Homo sapiens: one gene and its partner. The protein of the gene in region 1 interacts with the protein of each later gene in a pairwise test. Each region holds a gene or a part of one and is shown on either strand. Other genes may lie near its edges. The genes, in order: SLC35B4 and EBAG9.

Evidence for each region.
Region 2: the proteins of SLC35B4 (region 1) and EBAG9 interact in binary tests that used the Homo sapiens proteins (3 or more experiments, as listed by UniProt).

What each region holds. Positions count from the first base shown.
Region 1 is NC_000007.14:134,288,681-134,293,083, reverse strand, and holds the end of SLC35B4 (nucleotide sugar transporter SLC35B4), read left to right. Parts: 3' UTR 1-3,752; downstream 3,753-4,403. UniProt on the Homo sapiens protein: Antiporter that transports nucleotide sugars across the endoplasmic reticulum (ER) membrane in exchange for another nucleotide sugar.
Region 2 is NC_000008.11:109,549,993-109,557,296, forward strand, and holds part of EBAG9 (receptor-binding cancer antigen expressed on SiSo cells), read left to right. Parts: intron 1-817; 5' UTR 818-832; coding exon 833-915; intron 916-3,872; coding exon 3,873-3,951; intron 3,952-4,736; coding exon 4,737-4,895; intron 4,896-6,942; coding exon 6,943-7,050; intron 7,051-7,304. UniProt on the Homo sapiens protein: May participate in suppression of cell proliferation and induces apoptotic cell death through activation of interleukin-1-beta converting enzyme (ICE)-like proteases.

The DNA of each region.
Region 1 (4,403 bases):
CCTGGGCTCATTCCATGGTGTGGTATGTTTATTCCACTGTCCAGAGCTATTCTCTGATGGATTTGAGCAACAGCAGTGGAGATAAATGTCCTAGAGTCACCAGGTCGCTTGGAGAAGTCATTTAAGCTGCCTCGGGTTTTTGTTACTTAAAATGTGGATATTATTTCTCCACCTAAATCACTGAGTTTACAGAGTAATAATGTGTTGCTCTGGACATTGACAGCTTTCTAGAGCCAGTAATGGGCTCTTCTGAAGGATGCTGAATTAGAAGTGAACCTATTCATAGGATCAAAAGCCACTTGCTTTGAAATATGTAGAGTTCCTCAGAATTGACGGTGCTAGAAATATCCAAGTGTTAAATAACCTTTTAAAAGCAACAAAAGCTACTTTTTTCTTACCACTTAATAGAAGAACCTGTCCCTAGAGGCGACTTCATTGCTATGGATCTGGAGTCTCTGAACTCTTAATAGGATGCAGCCTCACATACATAATGTCACCCATTTTATGTTGATGAAAACATTACAAGTTTTCTTCATTGGGTATGTGTTGATGTTCACAGACAGTACTTGGGCCCATTAGGTTTTCGCGTCTGGTCTTAGAGCATGTGTATTCATCTCAGCGTGAATACCTCAGCCAGTCTTATGAATAGGAGGCTATGTATGGGCAGGGAATAGATTAGATTAGAACACTCGCACAAGATGACCACATATAGAAGCAGAAAGCCCCAAATTCCCTGGGAACTGTTTTTTCTCTAGTAGCTGAATATAAGGAAATATGTCTAATGGACACCAGTTAATACTTTTTAAAACTACTCTTTAAAAAAAAAATACGTTCCCCTTGGTTAACTGATTTTTTAATCCAGGGTGGACATTTTTTCAACCTTTATTAAAAAGACAAATAAACTATTTTGTAGAAGATCAGACTCCTACTTAACTGGAAGAGAAATGTCTATTAAATGTCTCTCCTCTTTCTCTGGGTCAAGACCATGTAATTTTATGCTTCAGAGATGAAGATACTGTTTGTTTACAAAGAGTTTAGTTTTTAAGACATCCAAAACTCTATGCTAGAGCAAAAATCAAATAGCAAAGGACACTAGCCAGAAAATACAGTGTGTGTGTGTGCACCTGTGTGCCTGCTGAACAACTTGACAGTGTAACAGATAAGGTAACTGAAGATGGTGGATATTTGAATTGTATTAGCTTAATGTCTACATATCTTTGGCCAAAACTCTATTGTCATATTAGAAACATGTTATCTTTTTCATGTTTATTAGTAATTTATTTTTGATTCTTTGTTTTCTTTTTCGTCCAACTAAAACAACTGTAATGTACTTGATACATTTATATCAAGTTCTAAAGTATTTAGACAAATCCAAATACTTTGTTTTTAGTTTTTTCCTCCTTTCCATCCTGTTAACCACAGTGAAACGCTGCAGTATTTTGATTTGGTCAGTGCTACGGAGGAAGACCATGAAAGCTGAATTGGTCTGTGCCACCCAGAGTAAACCTCTTCTCTTCTTCTGGAAAGATGGCGTGATGTTTTTCAAGGATTCTAATAAATATCCCGCAGTCATCTCCTGAGCAGCTTTCCTCTGTTTCACTTCAGAACTCCTTCCCCCACTTTCTTCACTCCAGTTTCTTCACTTGCAGCGTTTTCTGCTAAGAAAGACTTATCATCTTGTATCTGTTTATGCCTCTCTTCTTTGGGGCCCCTGGATGTTTTTGTGGATTTTTACAGAGTATTTATATCTGCACAGCGTGTATTTTGTTATACATTCTTACAAGCATTGATATTGGGGGGTACATTCATAATAGTGAGAATATCTGGCAGAATGTGTGAATGCCATATCTGTAGATGACGATGAATGTGAAGGGTTAATGTAGAAATGTTTGTTTATTCTGTTACAGCTCAAAATGGAGGCTGAGAATCTCTACCACCATTCCCTTCTCTATTTGAGAATCTCTACCACCATTCCCTTCTCTATTTGGGAAACAATACTCTCTTATTTTGCTATTTTTACCTTCCCATTAACTGGCTTCACTCAACAGTGCCAGATACCTATGGAGAGGGGAAGTAAAACACCTTAGGTCAGGAATAATAAACCAATGAGTTAGCTCAGGGCCGGTGGACATGTTCACTGGTGGACCAGTTGGCATTGACCTAAACGGACAGAGAAATGCACATGGAGGAGAACTACGTTGAAATCAAGATCCTATGTCTGTTGTATTTTCTCTTTGCCTGGAGTAAATAGCATTATAAGTCATTCCACCCTTATTAGATAACCAAAGCATATTGGTCTCAATAGCTTTCTCCTGAAAAATGTGATTGAATCTTACCTGTAGCAGTTCACTCTTAAGGTTGAAAGAACTGTCAATATAGATAAAATCCATTCCTTATTATTATTGATTGGTGTGACATTTGAAAATGTGTCTAAACAATATTTGTAAGTAAAAGAACCAGTCATAAGCCTCAAATGTGTTCAGTGTGTACCAAGCTGGAATGGGAGACTGGCCCCTCTTGGCTTTAAAGTAGCATGTTGTCTTTTTCTAGCAGCTTCTTCCTAGTAGACATTCCAGGGATGGGAGGGGCCAGGGATCATGTCTTACTCATTTCTGTATCGCCAGCCCCTGGCATAGTGTCTGGCTTATGTTATGTGAATAAATGAATGCTTGCCAAGATCTCTTCTTCCCTCAAGTTTCTGGAAAACCTGAGGGTTCGTGATACCTGTTCCCACTCCTCATCAGCGGGTTGGCAAGAAAGCAAATAAGGGGAAACATTTTTAACATTCCAAGCAAGAGAAGGAAGAACGACTATTGGGAGGAGGTACACCAGAGATTGCTCAGTGTGCAGCCTGCTACCTCACTTTTGGCTCTGGATTGCCTGGTGGTAGAAGGGAAGAGTATTATGTAGTTAGCACCTTACATATTTGATGCTCAGGAAGAAAGTGCAAGAAGATCCCTAATAGAACATTAAAGATTCTTAAAAGTTTTTGAAGTAGGCTGCTTGGGGTGACCAGCCCCACCCTTACATCTCCATAGTTGGTACAGTTAGCTTGTAGCAGCTGAAGCTGATGCCTGGAGATCACTGTCTGTTGGTCTGATCTCAGTATCATACTGAGACACCTCCCCTGAGCCTTACCTACTTAAATTGGTAACCGTCCTACCAAAATTTGTCAATTTTAATCAAGTGAGGCAAGTTGCAAGGGAGCCAGAGATACGTGAAAAAAGAAAAGCAGAAATACTGATACTTTCTAAGAAAGAAGTTGTAATAATTTCTTTGGCACATTGACTTACTGATATCTTTTGAAATGCATAGATGACTCTTGTGAACCAAAGAGAGCAGTAGTGGTTATTCCCCGGCGCAATAAAAATGCCTTTGTGTATCACTTGCGATTGCCAGTCATTTCTGTGCCAGTTGCTTTCATTCCAGAGAATGGCCTCATTCTCCAAAAAAAGATGATGATTTTAGAAGTAGGATTTCCTAACAAATTATGTGGTGGGGAGGGACGGCGGGGATTTTATTCATCCCGTCTGAGCTCTTCATACAGTATTACCATTAGGTTTTAAGAACAAAGATGGGGGAGGAGGGAGTAGAAAGCTGAGAGTACGTAGAACAGCTACAAGACATTAGTGGGTATTCAGATTTTGAGCTGTGTAAATATCAAACATCGGCTTCCAGCCTTAAGAGTTATTTGAGCAGAGAGTTAAGGAGGAATGGGAGATTTTGTGAATAAAATGTTTTGCCAAACTGAATGAGTCTTTTTGCCATTATTTCTTATAGAGAGCTATTTTTTACCTTCTGAAACAACTCATCAGACATCTGGGGTTTATCTTGAATTGTACCATCATTGTTTCTTAATAAAAGTGATAAATTTCTTGCAGGTGTTTCCAATCACCATTACCTTTGAAGTGCCTGTGTGCAGTTTCAAAAGCTCTCCAATTTTTACCTTGTATAGTGGTGGTGGCATATTTTACTACAAACGATTGTCAGCAATCTCTCTTCCTAATGCCTCGCAGCTGGATCAGTAATAAACCACTTCTCAGGCTGGTTTCTGCGCCAGAAATTAGTTTACAGAGGATCAGCCTACTTTTGGAAGTTTTAGAGGTTTGTGGCAGTACATTCTATAGCAAATCTCTCAAAACCTCTTTGCCTTGATAGAAATACACTGACTTTTGTCAGCTGCAGTGACCAGCTCTCTTTGTCTTTGATATGTTGCTTTTAAATAAACCTCAGCTGGAAAGTAACTCTTCAAAGCAGTTTACCTCACCCAGCCTACTTTTAATCATGTTATGCAGTAGCCCCCAGGTACAGAACACAAAAAGAAAAACAAATGAGAAATTTTGCACTAAATATAGCATAGTTAAAATTCATCTCTTTAAAAATGGCATTACTGTTTTATCAGG
Region 2 (7,304 bases), on another chromosome or scaffold:
TTCTTTCTTATTCAATCTAACAATCTCTGCTTTTCAATTGGAATGCTATACAATTTGCATTTAATGAGATTATTGATATGGTTAGATTTACGTCTGTCATCTTATTTGTTTTTGGCTTGTCCCATGTGTTATTTGTTCTCTTTTCTTTGTTTCCTGCTGCCTTTTCAATTGAGTAGTTTTTATCTCCCTGCTTGTCTTATTGGTTATGACCAGTCCTTGCCCCTCAGAATATATGATTTAATGGACTTACTAGAGGTACTCCTAGGTATTGGCATTTCTTTAATAGATTCCCAGATTTGTGAACCACTGGACTAAATGAGCTCCATGGTAACTTTCAATTTACTAGCTATGTGACTTTGGTCAAGTTATTTGACCTCTCTTAATTCAATTTCCTCATCTATAAAATGGATATAAGGAAATATATTCATCTGCAAGTTAAAAATATTTAAAGTATTTTAAATAGTATTATGTTCATGTGGTTCAAACTTTAAAAGGTACACAGAGATTTAATATATTCTATTTTATACTTTTTTATTTTTTGAATTGTAGATTTTTGTATTAATAGATTTAGGTAAAATTATTTTCAAAAACTCAGAATGAAGGGTTTTATCCTTACAACCATTGAAAACTCGAAAACCTGGTTTTTGACTTGTTAATATGATTTAAATTATAATTTTAAAATTTACTGTGTTATAGTTTCTAGAGAAAGGTAAAAAATATCTTAGATTTTTCTTAGTGCATAATAGGTCTTTTCAGGACAGGAGTATGACTTTTGAAATCAATTTAATGCATTTTTTGTTTTGTGCCTCTTCCACAGGTTTTGATTCCCACCATGGCCATCACCCAGTTTCGGTTATTTAAATTTTGTACCTGCCTAGCAACAGTATTCTCATTCCTAAAGAGATTAATATGCAGGTAAATAAGTTTTATGTTCAAACTAACCTGTTTATCTCCTCGCTGGTTTTGGATACCTTCAAAACTTCAAATTTCGTGGACAGGACAGGTTATATTTAAGCTGAATATCTTGATTGCAGTATTTATTCATTAATTCCTAGTCATTTTTAGATACTTTTTCTCTACTTCAGATCTAGAAAATAGAGGTTCAGTTGTTTTGTTCATTCAAATTCTTACACTTTCCACTAAAATAACATGCTTAATACTATTTAGGAATAGACAGACCAACTTTCATTATTATAATCATCACAGAACTTTGATGTATTCGTTTCATTATGGGAATGTTTTAAAGTGGTTAGGTGAAATTCGGAATAGGTATTTCTGTCTATACTACAATAGTGTTGTTTTTATATTTAAAAAAAAATCCTAAGAAAAATCCTAAAAAAAAAAAATTTTTTTTTCTGTTTGAGTAACATTCTAGAATATGCAGGAAGTCAAGAGCAGGTAAGTCATTTGCTTTAGGACATCATCTGTAGACTTCAGTTCCTTCTGTTTTGTCACACGATCATACCCAAGAGCTATGATGTCTAAAATGTGTGCTGAGGCACCTCAGGGCTTTACATGAAATTCACAGGGATGCCATAGAATATTTTAAATTTTGCAGTGAAACATAGTGATAGCATCTGTTGAATACCTCAACTCAAAGTAGTTCACATTTGCAACATTAAATCCTGCAGTATTTTTTTATGATGGTGTTCTTTAATGTTTGAGATAAGTTTTTGTTTACTTATATTTTTGGTGACATCTCATTGCAAAGCCAGGATTTTAGGTTGTAATTAAAAGCGAGTACTGCACCAAAATTAATGTAGAACTGAAAACAAGAATGATGGTCTCCAGTCTTATTCTAAGGCATAAGAAGCTGTGCAGTGTTCAACAGGCACACAAATTTCATTAATAAGTTCAGTGATTGTGGTTATTTAAGAATAAAATAAAAATATTACTTTTTCTTTAAATGTGTATTTTTTACAATGGCTACTAAGCAGTTAGGATATACTTAAGTTTTTTGGGTGTAACTACCTTATTCAGTGGAATTGTTAGGTGTTTCTGTGGCCTAAGGGTACTGTGAAAAAGTTACTTACATACTAAGAGGAGGGTATAGTAAAAGAGGAAATGGACAGCAATCAGCTCTTTTTTTAATATATATAGACATGACTTAGAGGTTACACACAACAATTTTTGCACTGCCTGCTTTCCAGAGCTTAGTCATATGGCCCCCTAGCTGCAAGGAAGGATAGGAACTGCAGTCTCTGGCTATATGACCATTTGATAGCTGCTAAATTGAACTTATTGCTAAAAGTAGAGTGGTCTGGGATTTAAAAAAAAAAAAAAAATCCAGGGTATTGCAAGAGAACAAGTGGGTGAAATGATCATCTCTGGATGATCACTGGGGCAGAAGTGAAGAAAGAAATGGAAAATTTAGGTGGTTGACTTGAAATCACCCAAGAGGATAGGATTTGGGAAGTAGAAAAAGGAGCAAACTAAGTGTTCAAATTACCAGAGAATGAGGAAGAGAATGGCCAGAAATTCACCAGGTAAAGCAACATTAAAAATGGGTATTAATTGCCAGAAGGCAGGAAGTTAAAAGAAGCATTGTGTTAACAGTGGTGATGAAATGTAGATGTTTTCTTCTTATACTTCTATTTTTTAAAATTTTCATTAAATATAGATTACTTCTAGGATAAGAAATTTTCTTGATGTAAAAATATTAAGGACATTCCTATTGGCACTATAAATTTCTGTTGTAAATGTATACATATTTAGAATTGATTGTATGTTCAGTTTTAAAGAAAACTGACCATATGTTAGGATAAGCTTCTCTTTGGTGTCTGAAGGAACCTTAGACCATGTATTTTAAAATACCAGACTTGGCTAGGCATGGTAGCTCATGCCTGTAATCCCAATGCTTTGGGAGGCCGAGGGGGTAGGATAGCTTGAGGCCAGGAGTTCAAGACCAGCCTGGGCAACACAGCAGGACCCCATCTCTATGGAAAGGAAAAACACGCTTGTATCATAAATTTCATAAAGGACTATATTACTTTTCTATTCACCCTTTAAACAAATATAGCTTTGAATCTGTAATAAAAATAGCTGACTTTATCGTTCTTAGTTCTTAGTTGATGCTTTTTTTTTTTATAGATTATTTGAAGTGAAGTAAATGACTAATTATCTCTATTACCTGCCATTTTTTGTATGTTGTGCTATGTAGCAGGCACACACTGTCTAGGGTTTTTAAATATGTCACTTAATTAAATCCAAACAACCCTGCAAAAGTGGGTTTGAATACCTGCATTTTATAGATGAGGCTGTTGAGGCTGAAAAGTAGGTAATTCTAACTAGACATAATAGAAGTAACATTGAAAACTGTGGTTTACACAGATTCCACAGCCCATGTTCTTAACAACTGAGTTATAGTACGTCCTGTTGAATGTGGTACTTTTCCTACTAATCCTTAAAAGTAAGTTACCATTTGGTTCAAACTAGTGATTTTTAAACTTCTTAATAGTTAATCTTATCAAGAAACCCCATGTGTAAAACATAAAAGCCAAGCCACCCTGTTTAAAACAGCAAAGGTGGCCCAGAACTTCACCCACAGAACCCACAGCACTCCAAGGAGCATGCTCTGAAACCGTCTTGCATTTTTATTTTTGACTTTATATTCCTCTTGAGTTTGTTTATAATTCTGAGTCCTAAGCCAAAAAGCAGTTATGTTGTTCTGTCCAAGATTTAAAAAACATTCACAGGATGTCTGATTTATGACTTTTTTTTACCATAAATTAGTGAGTAACTGTTACTAAAATCAATAATCATAAAATTGAGAAAGATCTTGTTTTATAAGCCTTCAATTACCATACATAATAGTGCTTTTACTTTGCTTGTTTTGGTGGTTCTTGAAATAAATTATTTCATTTTTGTTTCAGATCTGGCAGAGGACGGAAATTAAGTGGAGACCAAATAACTTTGCCAACTACAGTTGATTATTCATCAGTTCCTAAGCAGGTAGGTTTTTTTTGTGTGTTCTTTTGTTTTGTTTTGTTTTGAAAGATTGAATAAGTGTCCTAGAACAATATTTTAAAAACTGGATTGCAGATCATTAATAGAAATTAATTTTTGTTGTGTTGTTAAATTTATCTGGTCTGAAAATTCTATTTGGTTCTACATTTTATCTTCTGTTTCTTTGTTGACATTTTCTATTGTGTTTTCATTGGTTTCAAGTGTTTGCTATTGTTTGTTGGAGCATTTTTATAATAGCTATTTTAAAGCCTTAGAGAATTCCAACATATCATTTTGGTGTTGGTATCTGTTGATTAACTTGCCTTGCAAATTTAGATGTATTGTTTTTATATGCTGAATAATTCTGGGTTGTTTCATGAACATTTTGAATACTATGTTTTGAGACTTCATCTTATTTAAATCCTGTGGAGAAGCTTGGTATTTTTTATCAGATGATCAATCTGGATAGGCTTGGGTGAAAATGTCCAGCCCTTCTGTGAGTTGTAGTTTTAATGTCAGTTCAGTTTTCAGAGCATTTGCTTTCGTTTTACTTTGTTTTTTGTTTTTTGATGGACATAATAGAATAAAATAGAACAGAATATATCAGAATGTCTTGTATTTTTTGAACTTTTGATCAAGTTTTGATCTGTGATATGAAATGTATGTTTTCCCGTGGGTTAAAAAAGTTTGAAAACCAGTGTTTTAGAAAGCCCATTTTTCTAATAAATCATCAATGATGTGTTCATTAAGTTGCCCCTTTGTGGCTGATAATGTTGATCAATTAAATTTAGACAGATGTTGAAGAGTGGACTTCCTGGGATGAAGATGCACCCACCAGTGTAAAGATCGAAGGAGGGAATGGGAATGTGGCAACACAACAAAATTCTTTGGAACAACTGGAACCTGACTATTTTAAGGACATGACACCAACTATTAGGAAAACTCAGAAAGTATGTTAAGATTTATGCTTTTGGAGATTAAACTACTTTTTAGATTCCTATAGTTAAAATTAGGTGATACAATTCACATTTATTAGAAAGCCTATTTCTTTTTTTTTTTTTAATACTTTAAGTTTTAGGGTACATGTGCACAACATGCAGGTTAGTTACATATGTATACATGTGCCATGTTGGTGTGCTGCACCCATCAACTCGTCATTTAACATTAGGTATGTCCCTAATGCTATCCCTCCCCTCTCCCCCAACCCCACAACAGGCCCCAGTGTATGATGTTCCCCTTCCTATGTCCATGTGTTCTCATTGTTCAGTTCCCACCTATGAGTGACAACATGCAGTGTTTGGTTTTTTGTCCTTGCGATAGTTTGCTGAGAATGATGGTTTCCATCTTCATCCATGTCCCTATGGAGGACATGAACTCATCCTTTTTTATGGCTGCATAGTATTCTATGGTGTATATGTGCCACATTTTCTTAATCCAGTCTATCAGCATATTTCTAATTATCAGTTGTTTGTTTTCTGTCATGTTAAGTAAGAATTTTATATGTTCAAATGACCTAGACATAGTTCTAGTAAGTTGTACCCCAAGTCTTTTAAAATTATATTTATATATGTATCGAAATCCTACTATATGTCAGATTCTAGACTCCAGTCTCTGCCATGGAGACTAAGGTGAATTGGATAAGAGTTCTAACAAGTTTGTACTTCAGTAATATCTACAAACTGATAGGTAGAGTTTATTGTTTGTAACCATTATAAAACTGATGCAGGACTCTAAGAACTTAAGAGTAATTGTGAGTTTGTGTTAGTCATCCATACATTATTTAATCCCTTTTGAATTGAATATGGAAGATCATTTAGAGATGCAGGGAATTACTGGAAAAAACAGAATGCTTGAGTATTTTCGTTTTTATTTATCAAAATAGTACATGTACTTTTTTTAAATCAAAAACTGTAGAAGAACTTATAATGAAAAGTGAGACTTCTGACCCATCACTCTTAGCCAGTTCTTCCAAGAAACAGCCACTCAATAATTTTCTGTTTGGATTTCTTCAAGTGTTTGTCATCGTATCTATCTATATGGTTATATTGCCATTTCTTGTTTACCAGTAACAGACATTGTCCACTGACATTCATACTATGGTAAATGAAGATTTATTTCTTACTACCATTCCCTCTCCTTTATTCCAGTCTACCTCACTAATCACTCTGCTATATCAGAAAAACACACTTAAAGTTCACTTTCTTATTCAAACATAGAAAATATTTTTATCATATATATATATAAACACACACACATACACACTTCATAAAAATTAGGACATTATTTCACATTTTCTAATACAGTTGTTCCTCACCTTCTTTCTCTCAGCTGATTTCAGCTATACATTTATATTTACATTGTCTAGGTTGATAACATTTACATTCTTTGTTGTTGAGTTGTCCAAATGTCTCAATGCTAAAACACATTAAATTGTGTATTTTTAAAGGATCCTTTAAGTGAGTTTCTTAATAGATGAATACCTTGCATTGTGGAAGTATACTGCTGCTCTCAGTAGGAACCTAGTATATTGCTATAGTGCCTTATTAAATTAGTTAGAATGGAAATGCTTTAAATGAGGCTACCAACATATCATATAAGTGTATTTTGATGCTACTGGCCTGAATGAGTTAATGTATTCATAGGTATCTCACATGCTGAGAGAGTTGTTAATACTATTGGCAGGATATGATACCTGTTGTTATTTAATACAGTAACTAAAAGTGATTGATTATATTTTGAGGTCTGGGGAAAGTAGGATAGAAAGAAAGAAAATGGGCCTGTATTAATTTTTAAAAGTGAAATACAATTTTTCTTAGTATGTAACTGATTTGTACAACAATTCCCTGGGAAATTGGTATTTACAGACTTTTTTTTTAGTTTTTACATTATAAATTTTAAGAAGAAATATTTTAAGTAATTAGAAAATGTTTTGGTTGTCTATTTTTATGTAGTGATTTGTAAAAGATCCCTATAATTCTTTTTCAATTAATCTTTCAGATTGTTATTAAGAAGAGAGAACCATTGAATTTTGGCATCCCAGATGGGAGCACAGGTTTCTCTAGTAGATTAGCAGCTACACAAGATCTGCCTTTTATTCATCAGTCTGTAAGTATGTTAATGGTTCTAGGGAAGGGTTTTGTTGTATTTCTGTTTTCTTTAAAGCAGAGGAATAAAATCTAAATGAGTTTAACATAGTATTTATATTTTTGTAACTTTGAAACAGGTTTAGCAGTTTGATAGAAGTTAATCTGGAGTTTTACCAATCCTAACCTTTTATGAGATTGTAAATTACCTTAGATACTAAGATCAAGGTCTCATTGTACACATGAAAGATAGAGATACAATGTTATTTAAAAATA